2 separate regions of the Homo sapiens genome follow, and region 2 is linked to region 1. The links come from fine-mapping of genetic effects on gene expression. Tissue or cell type: gastroesophageal junction. Region 1 holds a variant in brackets; the other region holds the start of a gene. All regions are shown on one strand. Distances are from middle to middle.

Region 1 (2,755 bases):
GTAGGACCTTGGACAGCACCAATAGGGCTCCCATGGCCGATCTAAGCACTGAGAGGCCAAAGTGGCGGCAAGGCTTACACAGTGGCTGCGGCCTCTATACTCTGAGGACCTCCAGAGGAGACACACAGTGGTGGAAGACGAGCGTGACCAAGCCTGGCTTTGTTTACAAGGGGCACAGAGGACCCACAGTTACAATGCAGGACCTGGAAAGCCCCAGCCCTGAAGATATTCAAGACTGCTCTGTAAGTGCTTCATGTTGGTGTGACTGACAGTGACAAAGGGTAGAGGCTTGCCAATCGTGCATACCCAGCTCACACTCCCCATGCTGCCACGTCCCAGCTGTGAGACTATGGCTTGGCCACTTCACTCTGTGAGACTCAGTTTCCTCATCTGGAAAAAAGGGACAGTAACACTAACCTCAAAGAAAGGATGTGTTAATAAATGAAAAGCTGGCCAGGCGCAGTGGCTCATGTAATCCCAGCACTTTGGGAGGCCGAGATGGGTGAATCACTTGAGGCCAGGAGTTCGAGACCAGCCTGGCCAACACGAAACCTCATCTCTACTAAAAATACAAAAATTAGCTGGGCATGGTGGCACATGCCTGTAATCCCAGCTACTTGGGAGGCTGAAGCACAAAAGTCGCTTGAGCCCAGGAGGCAGAGGTTGCAGTGAGCTGAAATCACACCACTGCACTCCAGCCTTGGTGACAGAGTGAGACTCTGTCTCAAAGAAATGAAAAGCTCCTGGCCTAATACCTGGACCCTGGCGGGTGCTAAATACATGTTGGTTTCTCCTCCCTCTCTCTTTTTCTTGACTGTGGAGTCCCAGTGCTTTGTAGCTGGTTTTATAAGACCCAACGAGCCAGCTTCTCAGGCCAGGTCTGGGCTTCTCAACCTTCACACTAATGACGTTCAGGTCAGATAACTCTGCTGTGCAGGGAGGAGGCCATCCTGTGAGGTGTAGGATGCTCAGTACATCCCTTGCCTCTACCCACTAGATTCTCGTGGCACTGTCCCCCATGGTTGGGACAATCAAAAATGTCTGCATTCACTCCCAGCTGTGCCTGGAACTGGGGAGTAAGGCAAAATTGCCCTTAGTTAAAAACCAGAGGGGTAGACGCAGAAAGAAA[G/C]CCACTTGGGTTTAGTAGGGCAAGGGGCAGTGAGTGACAGGGGAGTGGCAACGCCAAGAAAAGCAGAATCAAAGATCCTCCGACAGCCCGTCTGCAGGGAACTCCTTCAGGTGAATTTTACCCATGAATGGAATTTGCTTTTTGAATTTAACAGGTGACAATACCAGACTTCTTTTTCAACCCTAATAACCTGTGACCAATTTCCCTGAACTGACACAACTGCCCTCCAAAGACCCACTTTTCTTGCTGAGCTGCTAAAAGCAAAACAAACCCCGAAAACAAAAACCAAAGCCTCCCTAATCTGCGTTCTTTCTACAGGCAACCGAGTGCAGCCGCTGGCTACACAGAGGACAAGAAGCAAAAGAAGCTGCCACAGAGAAGGTGTGAGAGGTGCAGGAAACCTCTCCAAAGACCAGGACATTTGGCTGGGCACAGAGGCCCTCATTAGGAGCACGTCTCCCACACGGAGAAAGACGGCAGGTGTGCCGGCGGTGCTTGGGCACTGAGCAGACATCTCTAGCCCGACGATTACTCCAATGGACCCTTTCTCATGGAGCCCACACTCTTATGAAGACCTCAGTCAGAACCGCAGAGGCCGCGCTGCCCTGAGGCCTGGTGTTGGAGCTGTCCTGGTTAGCACCTTGTCATCGCGATCCCCTGGGGTCAAGTGGGATCCCCTGCTGCCCTCACTCTGCACTGCTTCACATGTTAAACAGACTTATGCACCAAAGTCCCCTTTTGCCCTGGAAGGCTTTTAAGGTACAGTGGACCCCATGTGGCCCACAGATGTTTTAAGCAAACAAAGGAGTTTCCAACCAACTTAAACATCAGATTTTATATGAAGATGTGCATTTCTGCCACGTCTTGAAAAGGTCAAGGACTTCTATCCAGCTAGCTGCAGTCCTATATAACAGGAATCAGCCTGGTGAGGAGTGGCTGATCCCTTTTGATGGGGCCTATGAGCTGCACTCCACACCACTCCCTGCTGACAACTCAATGGCTTAATTCACTTATATGACCCACCCAGACCTACAGGCACCTGAGTTTGCCAAGGCATCCAGTCGACAGAGGTAAATTTGGGGTGCCTATTGATGCTGGAAGATCACAGAACCAAGGCCCCAATTTGGGGTGTCAGTCCAGGTAGCGGGGTGTCTCCTCCCTCCAAATAATATACCTGGTTGATAATGACGAGGCTAAGAAAGTAAGAAATGAGGACAAAAGGCTGCAGTGGCTGACGGGCTGCTCTCTGATGTGACAAGTCTGTCCAGGAACCCCACTGCTGGGGATGGGGGTGGGGAGGTGCAACATTAGTGTCTCACCTCCTGTGGGGTGGAAATATGCATCAACACATCACAAAAGGGGCGAAAGACTCCATGACCTCAAACAGCCTCTTAGCATCTAAGCTATCCCAGGACCCACAGGGCCACAGGTACCAGCCCACGAACAGTGACTAGGGCTGACTTTCCAGGAAGCTGCTACGGATTCTGCAAAGCACTCCACAGGAGAATCAGCTGCCCTTTGGGCAAAACAGCAGCAAAGTGTCCTCTGTGGCCTCAGATGGCTGCTGGTTCCAGAATCCAGTTTGTTCAGAGAGAGGCCCTGCCTGGCAAAGGCGGCCGTGTTTCT
Region 2 (2,500 bases), 560 kb after region 1:
AGGGACTAAACTTCAGAAAACATTGAGGACGAGCTGCCCACACCCACCTCCCTCTCACTTCCAGCATCCCCATCAACACCACCCCCTCGATGGTGAGAGGAAGAAGTTTGGACTGGGAAGAAGAAGGACGAAGTGACGGTCCCCAGATGGGCTGGGCACGGGACAAGAAGGGAAGGGCTGCAGGACAAGGCAAGAGAGATCTTAAATGATAATGATGAGCCAGGATAAGACATGGACAAGGATGGAATATGCAAGGATCATCGAAATGTAAAAGCCAGGACCGGAGAGGGAAGCCGAGTGGGTAACTGGGAAGAACTGGTGATGGGAAGAGCAAAGCACTGGGAACAGGGGTGGGAGGGATGAGAGGGATGGGGAAGACAAACGGGTTGCAGAATTGAGCTCCTCTGGGGACCAGAAGCTCCTGGGACACGGGGGTACTGGGGTCAGCAAACTAACTGTCCAGAAAGACTATGCCTGTGTGGAAACTGCAGGGACTGGAGACCAGGGGCCTGGGTAGCGGGGATGACTGGGGATGGGGGACCTGGAACTGGAGCTGGGACGCAGCGGGTCTAGGAGTTAGGAGAGACTGAGACCTGGGAGGTCTCAGAACTGGGGGTCTGGACACTAGGCAAGGGGATCGCAGGACTGGAACAACTGGGGACAGGGGTTTAGGAGCTGGTTTTTATGGATGGACAGGAGTCAGGAGACCAGGAGTGCCCCGCCACGGGAGATCAGAGACCCGCAGGTGAGCAGGGGCCACGAGCCGGGAGTCCTGGGGGCCAGGGGTCTGGAAAAGGGAGCGACTGGGAGGGGGTCTGCGAGGGAGCGGGGCGCGAGGACGCAGGGGCCGGAGTGTGCAGCTGGAGCGGCGGGAGCCGGGGCGGCCGGGGCAGGTGACAGCGGCGGGGCCGCCACTCACCGCTCATGGTGCCTCTCCCCGGGCCGGTGCCTGCGCCGCGCCGCCGCCGCTGCCGCTTCTGCGGCTGCCGAGCTCCAGACAGGCCGGGAGACAGGAGCCCCGCCCCGGCCGCCCCGCCCCGGAAGTAGAGCCTGGCCGCCGACGAGGCCCCGCCCGCCGACCCGGAACGTAAACCGCGGCGCAGATCCAAGTCGCCGGACCCGGTGTGGAGAGCGGTGCTGAGGCTACGCGGGCTGGAGACTCAGGGTAAACCCGAGACCCCGCGAGGAGGCGTCGCTGTCCCCAAGTGCCCAAGACGCCTCCCCTGCCTTCCTGAGGTTCCCACGAGTGATGGGGCGACTTCGTCCCAGAGAGGGATGCGAGCGGGAAAGGAAATAAAAATAGAGGAACGGGACAAAGCGTGGGCACAGGCGGATGGGCAATCCCGGAGGGCCTCTCTAAGGAGGCGACTTCTGAGCCCAGACCTGGATGATGAGAGGAACCCAGTCCGGGAAGATCCCCAGGGAAAGTGTTCCATAAGGAGGGGCAATTGCAAGGCCCCTGCCTGGAGGGGTTGACAGGAGCGAGGGGATGAGTGAGAAAATAGGCCTGGTGCGGTGGCTCACGCCTGTAATCCCAACACTTTGGGAGGCCGAGGCGAGCGGATCACCTGAGGTCAGGAGTTCGAGAGGGTGAGTGAGAAAAGGAGATTGAGGAGGTGGAGGGAGGGCCTTGCAGGCCAGAGGAAGGAGTTTGGGCTTTTCTGCCTAATTCTAGGAAGGTCCCAGCACTTGGGAGGGCGGAGGCAGGCGGATCGCTTGAGGCCAGCAGTTCAAGAGCAGCCTGGGCAACGTAGCGAGACGCCGTTCTCTACCAAAGAAAAAAAGGACTCAAGCAGAGGAGTGATACGATCTGAATTAGGTTTTAAGATATGGCTCCTAGGCCGGACGCGGTGACTCATGCCTGTAATCCCAAGGCATGATTGGGAGGCCAAGGTGGGTGAATCACCTGAGGTCAGAAGTTCGATTCCAGCCTGGCCAACATAGTGAAACCCCATCTCTACTAAAAATACAAAAATTAGCCAGGCATGGTGGCGTGCGCCTGTAGTCCCAGCTACTGGGGAGGCTGAAACAGGAGAATTGCTTGAACCCGGGAGGCAGAGGTTTCAGTGAGCCGAGATCCCACCACTGCACTCCAGCCTGGGTGACAGAGTGAGACTCCCTCTCAACAACAACAACAACAAAAATGGCTCTTCCTGGGATGAGAATGAATTATAATGGGGGCAGGGTGGAGAAAGAGCAGGTGGTTAAGGAGTTATTGCAGTTGTCCAGGCAAGACATGGTGCCTGTCTACAGTGGTGGCAGTGGAGATAGAAAAGGTGATGGATTGGCCGGGCGCGGTGGCTCACGCCTGTAATCCCAGCACTTTGGGAGGCCGAGGCGGGCGGATCACGAGGTCAGGAGATCGAGACCATCCCGGCTAAAACGGTGAAACCCCGTCTCTACTAAAAATACAAAAAATTAGCCGGGCGTAGTGGCGGGCGCCTGTAGTCCCAGCTACTTGGGAGGCTGAGGCAGGAGAATGGCGTGAACCCGGGAGGCG

The links. PIP is the estimated chance that this variant, and not a neighbour inherited with it, causes the effect.
Region 2: SNX29 starts here. The variant in region 1 is fine-mapped to the expression of SNX29 in gastroesophageal junction (GTEx, PIP 0.92).

The regions. Positions count from the first base shown.
Region 1 is chr16:12,533,128-12,535,882 of GRCh38, reverse strand. The region is part of intron 20 of SNX29 (sorting nexin 29); the gene reads right to left. It also overlaps a transcript of SNX29-AS3 not described here. Among named protein-coding and RNA genes, the nearest start is that of SNX29-AS3, 77 kb to the left of the region's middle. The variant G/C (reference allele first, on the strand shown) is at 1,130.
Region 2 is chr16:11,975,233-11,977,732 of GRCh38, reverse strand. SNX29 (sorting nexin 29) reads right to left here and starts at 999. Exons shown (of 21, transcript NM_032167.5): 1 at 920-999. The coding sequence starts at 926. It also overlaps a transcript of NPIPB2 not described here. RefSeq lists a silencer at 730-1,189 and an enhancer at 1,684-2,335.